Linked DNA regions of Homo sapiens: region 2 is linked to region 1. Evidence: fine-mapped expression QTL. A gene starts in region 1. The other region holds a variant in brackets. All regions are shown on one strand. Distances are from middle to middle. Region 1 holds the start of ZBTB4 (zinc finger and BTB domain containing 4). Region 2 has its middle 20 kb from the start of TNFSF12.

The links. PIP is the estimated chance that this variant, and not a neighbour inherited with it, causes the effect.
Region 2: its variant is fine-mapped to the expression of ZBTB4 in whole blood (TOPMed, PIP 0.99).

Annotation. Positions count from the first base shown.
Region 1 is chr17:7,474,715-7,483,040 of GRCh38, reverse strand. ZBTB4 (zinc finger and BTB domain containing 4) reads left to right here and starts at 3,410. Exons shown (of 4, transcript NM_001128833.2): 1 at 3,410-3,585. SLC35G6 (solute carrier family 35 member G6) reads right to left here and starts at 1,595. Exons shown (of 2, transcript NM_001102614.2): 1 at 1,522-1,595; 2 at 1-1,053. The coding sequence starts at 1,524. The coding sequence ends at 40. RefSeq lists silencers at 3,054-3,313, 3,334-3,793, 4,054-4,103.
Region 2 is chr17:7,524,911-7,533,236 of GRCh38, reverse strand. No RefSeq gene overlaps it. Among named protein-coding and RNA genes, the nearest start is that of TNFSF12, 20 kb to the left of the region's middle. The variant T/C (reference allele first, on the strand shown) is at 4,898.

The DNA of each region.
Region 1 (8,326 bases):
TCCCTGTCCCTCCCAACCCCCGGGCTCCCAAGTTCTATCTCACTCCTCCACCTTCCCTTCCCTCTCACAGCTGAGGTTCCAGGCTGTGATGATGGCAATGCTGCCCAGCACAACCCCTGCCCCCACGATGTCAGAAGGTGCCACAGTCTCATGGAGCATATAATACTGCAGTATAAGGGCCACCACCACCTCGGAATGCAGGACAGCGCACACCAGGGCAGGGTGGGCCTTGGTGACCGCATAGCTCACACATGTGAAGGAGACCAAGGCGAGGATCCCCACTGCCCCCACACAACTCCAACTCGGGAGATCACTGGGCAACACGGGGGGCTGCAGCACAAAGAGGCCTGGCACAGAGCCCAGCAGCCCCACCAAGCCAGATAGGAAGGCCACTGTTGGGAGGCAGGAGGGAAAGTGCAGAGAACGATAGACCAGAAGCCCCAGGGACAGCGCCAGTCCTCCCACGAAAGCCTGCCCATAGCCCAGGGCGGTGTAGACACCCGTGATCCCCTCCTGTAGTGTCCAGAGTCCAGGTCCCACAATGATGATTAGTCCTAGGATGCTGCCCAACAGTCCACACCAGTCGTAGCCACTGAGACCCTGGCTCTCAAGGCAGAGGGTGAGGACGGCGGAGCAGACGGTGGAAGAACCTTTGCGAACAGTGGCAGCGTTGCCAGCGGGCACCACCTGAACCGCACTGTAGGCACATCCAATGCTGAGGACGTTGAGCAGGGCATAGAAGTAGGCCCGGCCTCGGATGTCAGGAGGTCCCAGAAGGGGGTCGCCACGCAGTTTAAGTAGCAGGGCAATAGGGAGGTGGAAGAGGCATCGACAGATGAGCAGCTCCAGCGAGGGCAGGTTGGAAGCCTGGTAAGCCATATGAGAAAGGGGGCCCACGAAGCCAGCAGGCAGGCCCCCACCCAGCAGGGCCACCAGCAGGCCATTGGTGGCATCAGAGGGCTGGCAGCACTGGTGCCAGCGGAGGCTGGGTGGAGCGGAGGGCGGCGATGGGTGTGTGGAGTCAGGCGGGTTCAAGTAGGGGTGACTGCCAGCCTGTTAGGGAGAAAGGAGCTCAGGGTAGACAGCAGCCGCAGCCCAGGCGACCTGGGGCAGGGCAGATGCCAGGATGGGGTCTGGGACCCTGTGGGACTGTACAGTGTTGGGCTATCTTGCTGAGGAACTCTTCGGAGCTAGAAAGGGCCTAAAAGATGAGTGAGATGTTATAATGTGGGCCTGGAGCAGGAAGCAAGGAGTGAGCAGTCCTGGAGCATCGTTTCCCTGGGTAAGTTGTTCCTGGGAGGAGAAAAAGGACCCAGGATGCTCTCTCGGATTGAGGAAGGGGAGGAAGCCTCAGATGCTATGCATCTGTATGATGCCACAGGTTCCAGAGACATCTGGGTACACCATTATGAATTCTATTTGTGGGTATCTCTGAGACAGCTAAGTTTTAGGAAAGGAGGGGAAATGGAGCAACCAGGAGCTATAGGGAGGGAGTACTAGGCCCCTGGCCCCCACACTCACCATCTTTCCTTGGACTTTCTCCTCTCCTCCTGGCTCAGGGAGCCTGGGCCCCTCAGAGCTCCAGCCATTGTGACATGGTTGGAGTGGGGGTGGGGTTCTTCCCTGGAACTCTCCTGAGGTGGTAGCACGCCTATTTTCCCGCTGAGTCCAACTCTGCTTCTTTTCTTTCTTTCTTTCTTTTTTTGTTTGCGACGAAGTTTCCACTCTTGTTATCCAGGCTGGAGTGCAATGGTGTGATCTCATCTCACTGCAACCTCCACCTCCCAGATTCAAGCGATTCTCCTGCCTCAGCCTCCCAAGTAGCTGGGATTACAAGAATGTGCCACTACACCTGGCTAATTTTTTTTTTTTTTTTTGGGACGGAGTTTTGCTCTTCTTGCCCAGGCTGGAGTGCAGTGGTGCGTGCAATCTCGGCTCACCGCAACCTCCACCTCCTGGGTTCAAGCAATTCTCCTACCTCATCCTCCCAAGTACCTGGGATTACAGGCATGTGCCACCACACCCCGCTAATTTTTTATTTTTCGTAGAGATGGGGTTTCTCCATGTTGGCCATGCTGGTCTTGAACTCCTTACCTCAAGTGATCCACCCCACCACCCCCCGCCTCCCAAAGTGGTGGAATTACAGGCATGAGCCACCGTGCCCAGCCCAACTCTGCTTCTTTTCTATTTATGTCTCCATGACTCCAAAGTTTGTCTGATTCTTTTATTCTTTTTATGGCTAGCTCTGTGGCTTTACATTAATTTGTTTATTTATATCTTGCATGGTTTCAGAGAGGTTTTTTTGTTGTTGTTTTTTTTTTGAGACGGAGTCTGTCTCTGTCGCCCAGGCTGGAGTGCAGTGGCGAGATCTCGGCTCACTGCAAGCTCCGCCTCCCAGGTTCACGCCATTCTCCTGCCTCAGCCTCCCGAGTAGCTGGGACCACAGGCGCCCGCCACCACGCCCGGCTAATTTTTTTGTATTTTTAGTAGAGACAGGGTTTCACCGTGTTAGCCAGGATGGTCTCGATCTCCTGACCTCGTGATCCGCCCACCTCGGCCTCCCAAAGTGCTGGGATTACAGGCGTGAGCCACCGCGCCCAGCCTCAGAGAGGTTTTAAGGCAAGGAGCTGTGAACCCTGGCTCCTCCATCTCCTTAGTTTTTAATTTTCCAGCACCAGGGAGGAGTTCTTGGGATTGTCCCTGTGGAGTTTCAGGAATGTGTTTTTTCTGTGTGTGCTTCCACCTGGTGTTTTGTTGATGCTGTCCCCAGAGGCCGACACCAAGGCCTCTGCATTTATGTTCAAGTATACAGATGTGGATCTATCTGCTGGTGGGGACAAAGTACCCAGCCAGCTTCATGTGTTCATTTGCGCTGGTGGTCGTTCGTGTGTGCCCCGTATGCAGGGCCAGGGCCTTCTTTTTCCGCGGCCTGCTGAGCTTTCCTGCGCATTCCTGGAGAGGGTGTGTGTGTGTGTCCAGGGCTGGCCCTCTTTGAGTGTGCCGACCCTGGGTCTGTGAGTCCCACCGGGCCTGATTATGAGTCTGCCATGTCATGTCTGCACCCTGAGAGCCTGTGTGTTATGCTTTCAGGCAGTGTGCACCGCTGAGTGAAGGGCGTGCAGGAGGAAGGGCGGAGGGAGCCCTTTCCCTGGGGGTCGGTGGTCTTGCGCCCCTGCCGGGATGCTGCAGCCCGGCCCGCGCCCCGCTCGGTGTCCACCCGCCCGGTGGCCCAGCGCGGCGCAGTGTCATGCCGCGGGGGTCAGTCCTGGGGAAGGCCGTCGGGCGCTCGGAGCTTTGTGTCGGTGTCGGCTGCGCTGCGCCGGCCTCCTCTCGGCGGCGGCGGCGGCGGCGCTGGGGGGGGACTGTTTCCGGGGGTGGGGGTGGGGGTAGGACCGGGGCGGGGGGAGCCGATGATGTCAGCGGCGGCGGCGGCGGCGGCAGCGGGGCCGGGCCGGGGCCAGGCGCTGGGGGGGCCAGGGCCGGAGCTGGAGCCGGAGCCGGAGCTGGAGGCGGGCAAAACCGGAGCGGCCGGGGGCGGCCACGGTGATGAGCCGGGCCTGGCGGACGCGGCGCCATCGCAGTCAGGTGGGCCCTGGGGCGAACTGGGCAGGGCCAGGGCGGACCGGAGCCAACTGCCAGGCCCCCTCTCCGCTGCCCGGCGCTGCGGGAGCCCCGACCGCGCCCCGCGCCCAGACCGCTCTCCTTTGGGGTTGACCTGGGGGCGCAGGGGTCGGGGGCTGAGCCTGGCCCCGCCCCCGGGCGCGCACGACGCTGGGGGGCGACTAAGGGGGCCCTGGTATGGCGTCCGAGCGAGGGGCGGCCGTGGGACGCGATCGCCTGGGGCCGTGGAAGGGGAGGTGCTCACTCCCTCTTTGAAGGGTTAATTCTGCAGCCTAATGGCCCCCTCCCCCCGTGGGGCAGATTGGGGGTGGGGTGGGGCGGGTGTGAGCCCGGGCAAGCGCTGCAAGCTGCTGGGAGGGTGATGGCGTAGGAGCCAGGCAGAGAGGGGGAGGGGTGGGCCGCCGAGCGCCCCAGAGTTGGGGTGTGCGGGGTGCGCAGGGCGAGCTGGGGCCCCGGAACCGCCGCGCCGTCGGGGCAGGGTTGTGGCTGTGAGTCTTGGAGATCGTGTGTCTTGTGCTGTGTGGTGGGGCAAGGTAAACCTCTCCTGGGCACCACCGTTTGCTGGCAGCCAGGGGTCTGGGTAGGGCCCTCCCTGGGCCATGGAGATAGAAAGCCAGGAAGGGTGTCCAGTGTTGTGGGGCAGAGTTACAAGACGAGCCCTGTGGCTTTGGGTGACAGATGGGTATTCTGAGCAGGGCACAGCATGCTGGGTGCAGAGTTTGTTCGATGTGGGGCTGTATGTTTTCTACAGCATGTGTTTTCTCGCATGTGTGTCTTGTGCTGCACCTATGACCTGTTTATGAACTGTTTTCTGCAGAGCTGGCATGCTGTATGTGTTGCGGAGGGTGCCAGGATGCAGTGTATGTGCCCTTTTGGAGGGGGCGGTTGTGGGCCTTTGAGTCAGAAGGCGTCACGTCTGGGTCCCATTTCTGTGGCCCTGCTGAGGTGTGGTCCAGTGGTGAAGAGGGCGATGGATGGGTTTGCGTGTCTGTGATGAGCGCGTTGCATGGGGGCTGCGCGTCTAGAACTCAGATCCCAAAGATCATGAGAGGAGCGAGGAACCCCGGGGTATGTCTCAGGGGCCTGTGGGTCAGTTGGCACTGGTGTGAGGGGCTCGAGGTGGAATGCGCCAGTTGTGTTTATGGGATCATGGGCAGCCAAGCGAGGGGAAGGTTGTGTGTTTGCAACATTCTCCACAGGATTCTTTTGTGACGTTGTTTGTAGGAGCCTGTCTGGGCTGCTGAGCTGGGAGGCAAACTGGTCAGAAAACACATGTGGGGAGGGAGGTGGCGTGACAAGGGCAGTGTGGGCCTCAGACCCAAGAGGCCAGCCGCAAGCAGGCTGTGTGTGCGTGCCTGCCGTCTGTGTGCTTAAGTGGCGGTGGGGCTGCGGAGGGGATTTGGTATGAGGAAGGCGGGAGATAAATGCAGGGTAGCGCATGGAGGCCGGCGGGAGGCATGGGTGTTGTCAGATGGCCCAGCTAATCTTTGCAGGGTCTGTATGTTTGCCCCTCATGAGCCTGCCCAGCGTGTCAGGGTCACCCGGAGGAGAGGCTGGGCGGCCACAAGGGAAGTAAGCTTAGACAGAGAGGCTCCTTGGCCATGTTTATGTAAAGGCTGGGTGTGACTCTTGTCACTAAAATGGAAAAAAGAAACGTGAAGTTTTCAGCCTCCTCCTGCTTCACCCTCTCCCTCTCTCTGCCCCCCTTGTGGGTATCTCTGACGCACACTGGGCCCCACTCCTGCGACGGTGGAAGGGCCTCAGAACAGAATTCGCTCACTAGGCAGATTCCTCAGAACAGGTTTTCCTCACCTTTGGGGACTGGGCCCTTCTAGGGGTGTGTGTGCAAGTGCATTCCAAGCCTGCACACCACTGTCTACTGTGCCCGGCCCCACTGGAAGGATGTGTGTACGTGGGGGAAGGGAGGGTGCTGCGGACAGGCCCTCCGGCATGGGGGGCTGGGAAGGGGTGGCTGCCGTGGGAGCCTGCTCAACAGGTGCACAGTGACGGTCTGGTGAAGAGAAAGGAGCCATGGTCCAGGGCTGAGGAGCTCTGGCGTCTTTACCATTCCCTCACTGGCACTTGATCTGAAGGAAGCTCAGTTCCTCATCTGCAGAATGGGGCTGATTGTCTGCCCTGCGTATCTTCCAAAAGCACATGGGAAACGGACCCGGAAAGTGGCTATAGTCTGGGGGCTGTGCCTATGCCAGCCCCTGTCAGCCCTCCCCCAGGACTGGGAATTCCCTTCTTGGGGCTTCGCTGATAATAATGGCAGCACACACTTGCTTAGCACTGACCGTGCACCAGCCTGTCCTCAGGGCACTTATATGTGGCCACTCTGTCCTCAGAACAACACCCTGAAGTAGGCACTCTACCTCCCTTTTTCAAGTGAGGCAGCTGAGGTCCAGAGAAGTTAAGTAATCTGCCCCAAGTCACTTAGCTAGTAAGAGGTGAAGCTGTATTTGAACCCGGGCAATCAGGTTGAAGATCTTGTGCTCTTAACTACTGTACTCTGCTGCCTTCTGGAACATTCAGTGGATGGTCCTTTCTGTGCAACTCCCTCCAACACTCTTCTCCCCAGTTGCTGCAGAACTTAGCATTTGCAGCAGTCCATTTCAGAAGACCCGGATGCTCAGGGATCCCCAGCTGAGGGCATGAGAACCTGAGTCTCTGCTGCTGTGTAAGGTGGATGCTGGCCATAGGAGCACAAAAGGTTGATGAGTCAGAGGAAGGAATGATCGTTCTCATCCTGTGGATCAGGGAGGGCCAAGAAGGAGGTGGCCTTGGAGTCAGATCTTAACGTTTTGGAGGGATTTTGACAAGCTTGGGGAAAGAGCATTTCTGGCAGAACAAGCCAGCACAGGCAAAGGCATGAAGGTGTGGGTCATGTAGAAGCTGGAGAGCACACTGGGTGTCTGGGGTTTTGTTCATTTGTTTAGAAACTGGGTCTCAATATATTGCCCAGGCTGGACTCAAACTCCTGGGCTCAAGCAATCCTCTAGCTGCAGCCTCCTGAGTAGCTGGGACTATGGGTATCTGCCATCACGCCTGGCTCACGCTGAGTACTGTGTGTTTGAAGAGGATAACACAAGGCAAGATTAAAAAGGAAGATTGGAGCTAGACCAGAGCCCTTGACTGCCTGGTAGAAGAATTTGAACTTTCTTCTAGAGTCAGTGGGGACCAGTGGAGGTTTTGAGCCCAGGAGTGATAGTCCTGAACTGTGGTTAGGGACGTTGACCCTCAGGGGGAGGAGGGCTGGATGGAGGAAGGTAAGCCTGGAGGCCAGGGGATAGCTGGGAGGCCATAACCTTGGACCACGTGAGTGTTAACAAGGACCTGAGCTATCGAAGGGAAGATTTCCAGAGCCATTCCCAAGCTCGGCGGCGATTTCAGCCACACTTGATGACTGCTGGATGTGGAAGTGAGGGAAAGGGTGGAGTCAGACATGACACATTTAGCACTTAGCACGTGAGACCTTGTGCGGTGGTTTATGTAACCAGCTGGCGGGCCATAGGCCTCTTCAGGGCCAGGTCTAGCAGTATGGCAGAGGGAAAGATTGAGCATCTGGGGTCAGCTGGGCCTGGATTCGAATCTTGACTGCTGCTTACAAGCTGTGCGACCTCGAGTAAGGTATATCCCTCTCTGAGCCTCGGTTTCCTCTTCTGTAAAATTAGAATAATATGGCCGGGCGCAGTGGCCCATGCCTGTAATCCCAGAACTTTGGGAAGCCAAGGCAGGTGGATCACCTGAGGTCAGGAGTTCAAGACCAGCCTGGCCAACATGGAGAAACCCTGTCTCTACTAAAAATAAAAAAACTAGCTGGGCGTGGAATCCCAGCTACTCTGGAGGCTGAGGCAGGAGAATTGCTTGAACCCAGGAGACGGAGGTTGCAGTGAGCCGAGATCACGCCACTGCGCTCCAGCCTGGGCAACAGGATAATATAAAACCTATTGTGGGTGGCTGTACTGAGAATATCATTAAATGAGGTAATGTGTGTGAGGCCCCAAGAAGAGTATGAGGCAAATTGTGAGGACTCCAGAGTGGTCAACTTATTTATGGTTTCTTTTAATTTTTTTTTGAGACGGAATTTCTCTCTTGTTACCCAGGCTGGAATGCAATGGCATGATCTTGGCTCACTGCAACCTCCGCCTTCCGGGTTCAGGTGATTCTCCTGCCTCAGCCTCCCGGGTAGCTGGGGTTACAGGCGCCCGCCACTACGCCCAGCTAATTTTTTATTTTCAGTAGAGACCAAGTTTCACCATGTTGGCCAGGCTGGTCTCACCATGTTGGCTAGGCAGGTGGTCAATCCCTGACCTCAGGTGATCCACCTGCCTTGGCCTCCCAAAGTGCTGGGATTACAGGCGTGAGTTGGCCATACCTGGCCTTTTTTTTTTTTTTTTTTTTTTTTGAGGCAGAGTCTCACTCTGTCGCCCAGGCTGGAATGCAGTGGCGCAATCTCTGCTCGCTGCAACCGCCACCTCCCCGGTTCAAGCAATTCTCCTGCCTCAGCCACCTGAGTAGCTGGGGTTACAAGCGTGCACCACCACACCCAGCTAATTTTTGTATTTTTAGTACAGATGGGGTTTCATCATGTTGGCCAGGCTGGTCTGGAACTCCTGACCTCAAGTGATCTGCCCGCCTCAGCCTCCCAAAGTGCTGGGATTACAGGTGTGCGCCACTGTGCCTGGCCCAGAAGTGGTCAAGT
Region 2 (8,326 bases), 50 kb before region 1:
ATGCAGATGAACTGGGGAGGAATAGAGTTTTTATTTGTGCAACCGGTTACAGGGAGATGGTCTGGAAATTATCACCAGACAAACTCAAAATTATAAAGTTTTCCAGAGCTTATATACCTTCTGAGCTATATGTCTATGTGTAAGTGTGCATTCCTCTAAAGACATACGTGATTAACTTCTTTATATATATATTTTTTGAGACACAGTTTCACTCTGTCGCCCAGGCTGGAGTGCAGTGGCACGATCTTGGCTCACTGCAACCTCCACCTCCTGGGTTCAAGGAATTCTCCTGCCTCAGCCTCCCGAGCAGCTGGGACTACAGGCATGTGCCACCATGCCCAGCTAATTTGTTTTGTATTTTTAGTAGAGACGGGGTTTTGCCATGTTGGTCAGGCTGGTCTCGAACTCCTGACCTCAAATGATTCGCCCATCTCAGCCTCCCAAAGTGCTGGGATTACAGGCATGAGCCACTGTGCCGAGCTGGTTAACTTCTTTTAATCTATAACTAAGGTCTGAGTCCTGAAGACCTTCCTCTGGAGCCTCAGTAAATTTACTTAATCTAAATGGGTCCAGGTGCTGGGGTGATTACCCTTATCTTGTTTCCTGCTAAATCATGGAGGTTTGGGGAGTTCCTTCAGACCCCCAGTAAACTTGTTTGTGGAGGCCTGGAGAGTTTCTTCAGACCCACAGTAAAATTTATTGAATCCTAAATGGGTCTTGTTAAGAATTCCTTCGTTATTTTGTCATGCTTTAAGGCCCAGGAAAGGCCTAGGCAAAACTCTTGGTGGGCTTTTCTTACGTTCCAGCCTTTGTATAAAGGCACTGGCTTTTAATATTTAACTTAACTACTCAATCAGTACTGAAACAGTTGCTATGGAGGCCTGCATTAGTAAGACCTGGCCTGCCACAGTACCACCACGCCCAGCCCTTATGATTTTATCTGTCACACAGGCTGGAGCTTGGTGGCACCAACATATCCTACTGCAGCCTTGAACTCCTGGACTCAAGTGGTCCTCCTGCTTCAGCCTTCAGAGTAGCTGGGACTACAGGCGCATGACACCATGCCTGGCAAATTTTTAAATTATTTATAGAGATGGGGTCTTGCTATGTTGCCTAGGCTGGTCTCTAACTCCTGGGCTTGAGCGATCCTCCAACCTTGACCTCCCAAAGTGTTGGGATTACAGGCATGAACTACCATGCCTACCCCATGATTTTCTTAATAGCATTTTCTTTTCTCTAGCTTACTTAATTTTAACAATATAGTATATATATAAAACATAAAAAATACATGTTAGTCTTCTACTATGTAATTCGTAAGGCTTCCAGTCAATAGGAAGCTATTAGTAGTTAAGTTTTTGGGGAGTCAAAAATTTTTTTTCTTTTTCTTTGCTTTTTTAAAATTGAGATAGGGTCTCACCGGGCGCGGTGGCTCACACCTGTAATCCCAGCACTTTGGGAAGCTGAGGCGGGTAGATCACCTGAGGTCAGGAGTTTAAGACCAGCCTGACCAACACGGAGAAACCCTGCCTCTATTAAAAGTACAAAATTAGCCAGGCATTGTGACGCATGCCTCTAATTCCAGCTACTTGGGAGGCTGAGGCAGGAGAATCACTTGAACCCGGGAGGCCGAGGTTGTGGTGACCCAAGATCGTGCCATTGCACTCTAGCCTGGGCAATAAGAGTGAAACGCCATCTCAAAAAAAAAAAAAAAAAGAGAGACAGGGTCTCACTCTGTCACCCAGGCTGGAGTGCAGCAATGGAAACATGGCTCACTGCAGCCTTGACCTCCTTGGCTCAAGCAATCTTCCTGCCTCAGTCTCCTGAGTAGTTGGGACCACAGGTGCATGCCACCATGCTGAGCTAATTTTGTATTTTCATAGAGACGGAGTCGTGCCTTGTTGCCCAGGCTGGACTCAAACTCCTGAGATCAGGCAGTGCACCTGCCTCAGCCTCCCAAAGTGCTGGGATTATAGGCACGGGCCACCACGCACAGCCTTTTTCTTTGTTTGTTTGTGTTTTGTTTGCTTTTTTTTTTTTTGAAAAGGGGTCTCACTCTGTTGCCCAGGCTAGAGTGCAGTGGCGTGATCTCAGCTCACCACAACCTCTGCCTCCTGGGTTCAAGCAATTCTCGTGCTTCAGCCTCCCGAGTAAGTGGGACTACAGGCATGCGCCACCATGCCTGGCTAATTTTTGTATTTTTAGTAGAGACAGGGTTTCACTATGTTGGCCAGGCTGGTCTGGAACTCCTGACCTCGTGATCCACCCACCTTGCCCTCCCAAAGTGCTGGGATTACAAGCAGGAGCCACCGCACCCAGTTCTTTGTTTTTTTCATTCTGCTTTTTTTTTTTTTTTTTTTTTTTGCGGGGCGGGGGAGAGGGAATAAAAAAGTATACATGCGGTTTTGACTCTGCAGAGGGGTCAGTGTCTCTAATCCTTAGAGACACTGGTTCTTCAAGGGTCAACTCTAGTTTCTCTTAAGAGCAACAAGTTAAGCCATAAGCCAGCTAGATCACCAGAGGGAACTTAACTGATTGAGTGGTTAAGTTAAATATTAAAAGCCAGTGCCTTTTATATTTAAAGATATAAAATAGGGGAAAGATCCTAAGAAGAGCACTCTTGAGGTCAGAACAAAACTCAAAGACTTGCCTCAAAAACCATCCCTGCCAGAAATTAATTGAATCAGACTGTGGAGGAATTTATGCCTCAGGACATTGTCAAAAATAATAGAGCAATCAGCTTGCAGTTAGTGGAGCTTAACAGCTGGGTGTGGGGAAAGAGACAAAGAGAGCCCTGCTAAAACCACTATTATCTTACTGTGACTACAGGTACACTCAAGGCTACATCTTCTGAAGAATGACACCAAAGACTTCACAATATGGGGGAAATAGACTTCACTAAAATAATCTAGTCAAGTCACTAAGCAAACAAGCAAAAAACAACAGAAACAAGCCCTACAGAGAGGAAAGAGGAATTAGAGTTGCTAATATATTATTATCATTATTTTGAGATGAAGTCTCACTCTGTTGCCCAAGTTGGAGTGCAGTGATGCAATCTCAGCTCACTGCAACCTCAGCCTCCTGGATTTCAGTGATTCTCTTGCCTCAGCTTCCCGAGTAGCTGGGATTACAGGTGCGCCACCACGCCTGGATAATTTTTGTATTTTTAGTAGAGATGAGGTTTCCCCTTGTTGGCCAGGCTGGTTTTTAACTCCTGACCTCAGGTGATCTGTCCACCGTGGCCTCCCAAAGTGCTGGGATTACAGGTGTGAGCCACCATGCCCAGCCTAATATATTATTTTACATATCCAGTTTTAGGCCAAAAAAATTATTAAGATTTGCAAAGAAAAAAGAAAGCGTGACATATACACAGGAGCAAAAAAGTAGGCAACAAAAACTGCCCGTGAGAGAGCCCAGACATTTGATTTAATGGAAAAGATTTCAAAGCACTTATTATAAATATGTTCAAATAACTAAGGAAACCATGCTTCAAGAAGTAATGAAGACTAGGCACAGTGGCTCATGCCTACAATCCCAGCACTTTGGGAGGTTGAGGCAGGAGGATCACTTGAGCCCAGGAGTTTGAGAACAGCCTGGTCAACATAATGAGACTCTGTCTCAAAATAATAATAATAATAATAATTAATTAATAAAAATTAAAATTGGCTGGGTGCAGTGGCTCATGCCTGTAATCCCAGCAATTTGGGAGACTGAGGCAGGCAGATCACCTGAGGTCAGGAGTTCGAGACCAGTCTGGCCAACATGGCAAAACCCCATCTCTACTAAAATACAAAAATTATCCGGGTGTGGTGGTGCACGCCTGTAATCCCAGCTACTCGAGAGGCTGAGGTGGGAGGATTGCTTGAACCCAGAAGGTGGAGGTTGCAGTGAGCTGAGATCACACCACCGCACTCCAGCCTGGGCGACAGAGTGAGACTGTCTCCAAACAAAACAAAACAAAACAAAACGAAACAAAAAAACCCAGAAATTCTATGTGTGAAGTATGAACATATTGACTAAATTCAAAAGGGTGTTATATGGTTTTTCTGTAAGTTGAGCATTGAAATAAAAGCACAACAAGACACTCATAAGGCACTAATCTGCTCTTTAACAAAATTTGTAAAGGGTTATAAAAGGTTTTTGCTCTTTTAAATTTCTGAGTCATTTTAGCAAAATAAATAACTTGTGGTAATTTGGAATTCTATTTCATAACATCAAGTGTTTTAAACCTCTAACATATTTAACAGGCTTCCAGAAATTAAACTTCCATTACAAAATTGCCTTTCCTGATGGCTGGCTTTTGGATGCTACAGAGGGCCCCTGCAGTATCCAAAAGAGAGGTAAACAGAATTATTTGACAAGTTTAGTTACATGGGATTGCCAAAATGGTGTCCAATCTTCTTTAGGTTATATTCTGGTGAATAATACTAATGTATGTTCCAAAATTGTGTGGGATTTCTAAAATTCTAATGTCTAAAGTATATGCTATCAGTCATAATTAAGGTTGTTAAGTTATTGTAAACCACAGAGATAACCAAAGTTCTTTGTCAATTGTGTTTCTAACTGTAACTACCCTGGACATTTTGTTATTCACAGACAATTGTTGTCTTGTTTTGATCCTTTTCATAAGCTACAGGACTCTGCAGCCATAAAAAGAATGGGTTCATGTCCTCTCCAGGGACATGGATGAAGCTGGAAACCATCATTGTCAGCAAACTAACACAGGAACAGAAAACCAAACACCACATGTTCTTACTCATAAGTGAGAGTTGAACAATGAGAACACATGGACACAGGGAGGGGAACATCACACACTAAGGCCTGTCAGGGAGTGGGGGACAAGGGGAGGGAGAGCATTAGGACAAATACCTAATGCATGTGGGGCTTAAAACCTAGATGA[T/C]AGGCTGGGTACGGTGGCTCACGCCTGTAATCCCTGCACTTTGGGGGGCCGAGGCGAGCAGATCACCTGAGGTCAGGAGTTCATGACCAGGCTGACCAACATGGAGAAACCCCGTCTCTACTAAAAGTACAAAATTAGCCGGGTATGGTGGCACATGCCTGGAATCCCAGCTACTTGGGAGGCTGAGGCAGGAGAATCACTTGAACCCGGGAGGTGGAGCTTGTGGTGAGCCAAGATCACATGCCATTGCACTCCAGCATGGGCAACAAGAGCGAAATTCCGTCTCTCTCTCTCTCTCTCTCTCACACACACACACACACACACACACACACAACAAAAAACAAAAAACCTAGATGACAGGTTGATAGGTGTAGCAAACCACCATGGCACATGTATACCTATGTAACAAACCTGCATGTTCTGCACATGTATCCAAGAACTTAAAGCAAAATTAAAAAAAAAAATAAGCTATAGGACTCTGACAAGTATGCTCAAATATCAGTTTCTGATAACTTTGGAGATTGTGACATTGGCACACAGGAAAAATGTACAGGACTCATGAAGAGCTGAAATGTTCATGAATATCAAGCAAAACAAGAGTTAACTGAATGGACTGAACTAATAGAAAACTGAAGTAATCTTCTGGACTTTTGCTTGGAACATTGCTGATCCTTGTTTCATTTTTCAGAGTCGAGGAAAATTATTAGGAATTATTTACAGCCTTTAATAATTGAGTAGGGTGGCCAGGCGCGGTGGCTCACGCCTGTAGTCCCAGCACTTTGGGAGGCCAAGGCGGGTGGATCACGAGGTCAGGAGATCGAGACCATCCTGGCTAACACGGTGAAACCGTGTCTCTACTAAAAATACAAAAAATTATCAGGGTGTGGTGGCAGGCGCCTGTAGTCCCAGCTACTCGGGAGGCTGAGGCAGGAGAATGGCATGAACCCGGGAGGCGGAGCTTGCAGTGAGCTGAGATCACGCCACTGCACTCCCACCTGGGCCACAAAGCGAGACTCCGTCTCAAAAAAAAAAAAAATTGAGTAGGGTATACTCCTGTGAACAAAATTTGGAGCATGTTTGTTTCTCTCTGCCTGGTTCCTCTAGAATTTAGAAACTATCTATGAGTATTCATAACTTATGACAATATAGTTGTTTGTATCAGTGCAGTAAGAATCCATTTTCTTTTGCAACAGGATGCAATTGGAGAAACTGGTTGTTTTACCAAGGCTTTGACTGGAATGGTATGCTTCCCTTTAAGGAGTCAATCTCAACTTGCAGAGCCAATAAAAGTCCTTTGGTAAAACTGGCTTCATGCCCTTGTCTACACAGTCTCCATACAGGGTTCCTAACCTGCAATGAGTAAAGAATGTCACTTTCCAACAGGCCCAGAAAACACATGCTCTTGGGACCTCAAGAAGAGAGGAGTTTACCCAACTCACAGGTATTTGAGGATACAAACTCATGGCTGGCCTGAGCTTTAAAAGGTCTTATCTGAAATTCCTTGTGGAACAGAGTTCCATCAAAGTCAATCTAAAAGGCCTATGTAGAAATAATTATTTTTGCTGCACTTTATGCAAATAATCAGGCCAAGTATAAGATTAAAGTCGATTTTGCAAACAACTGAGTTCTAACTTGATTTGTTTTTAACAGAAATGAGGACTAGAAGGCTGGGCATGGTGGCTCATGCCTGTAAACCCACCACTTTGGGAGGCCAAAGTGGGTGGATCACCTGGTATCAGGAGTTCAAGACCAGCCTGGCCAACATGGTGAAACCCCGTCTCTACTGAAAATATTAAAAATTAGCCAGGTGTGGTGGTGTGCGCCTGTAGTCCCAGCTACTCGGGAGGCTGAGGAACGAGAATCTCTTGAACCGAGGAGGTGGAGGTTGTGGTGAGCCAAAATTGTGCCACTGCACTCCAGCCTGGGTAACAGAGCAATACTCTGTAAGGAAGAAGGAGAGGAGAGGAGAGGGGAGGGGAGGGAAGGGGAGGTGAGGGGAGAAAGAGGGGAGATGGAAAGAGGGGAGGGAGTGAAGCTGAGCGTGGGGGCTCACACCTGTAATCCCAGCACTTTGGGAGGCCGAGGTGGGTGGATTGCCTGAGGTCGGGAGTTCAAGACCAGCCTGACCAACATGGAAAAATGCTGCCTCTACTAAAAATACAAAATTAGCTGGGCATGGTAGCGCATGCCTGTAATCCCAGCTACATGGGAGGCTGAGACAGGAGAATCGCTTGAACCTGGTAGGCAAGATTGTGCCATTGCACTCCAACCTGGGTAACAAGAGTGAAACTCCATCTCAAAAAAAAAAAAAAAAAAAAAAGATTAAAAAAATATATAGAGAGAAATTATATTTCAAAACTTATATATTTGTCATTAAAGTTTAGACTCATTAGTTGTTTCTAAGTTTTGCCTACATTTTAAACTAACCCTGCTTATTCCTGTAAACCAACCAGGGATCTCTGGCTGCAGCTCAGAAACAACAAGAGGGATGGGTAATGTAAAAATCTGGATCAATATTCTAGTTCTGAGCAATTATCCTGCAAATCCTTCCAGGTGATGGGAATAAATACAGTGCCCATAACCCAGAGGTTTCCTCTGTGGGAAAGTAAGACCAAGGGAGCTAACAAAAGCCAAGCCTCATGCACCCAAATCCCAGGAAGCATAACTATAGCCACCAGTTATCTGGCCATGTCACAAGACATCTTTTTCTCTCCTTTGTTGGAGGAAGACTCAATCCCACATCTTCACCCTAGCATTCAGCTTATGATAAGGAGTCCACACAACCCCCCAAAAAACATTTTTGTCCCAAACTCAATTTCAAGCTTCAGGTCAAAGCCCTAGAAAGAAAACTGGATCTGAGGGATCCAGAGGCAGGTGATAATGGAAGTTAAAAGGCACAGTGCAGGTGAGCATAATTAATTCCTGCTGATTAAGCCAAGCTTCCCGTTCCATGGATAAAGATCATGCTAGTATCTGTGGCATAAATGAGGTCTAGGGAATTTAAAAGCTACTGACAGCAGGGGAGATAGGGCATATGTGGGTAAGAGTAAATACTCCCACCCCCTAGAACCCCCTGTTAATATGAGTGAAAACCACTTTGACACCCATGGGTGGGAACCTGTCATGGTTGCTGGGACTCCGGGATACAAGGACAGAAGAGAGAAGGAGTGACACCTCACTTTCTCTCCCTCACGTACTCTGGGTATTTGCTAGGAAGGGAAAGGAACCAGGGACAGACCTGTTCCCCTCTTTCTAGATGAGTAGCCATTCATCTTCAGTCTGTGCCCCTTTCTTTCTTTTTCTTTTTCTTTTTTTTTTTTTTTTTGAGACGGAGTTTCACTCTTGTCGCTGCACTCCAGGCTGGCAGGCTGGAGTGCAGTGGAGCAATCTCAGCTCACCGCAACCTCCACCTCCCAGGTTCAAGCGATT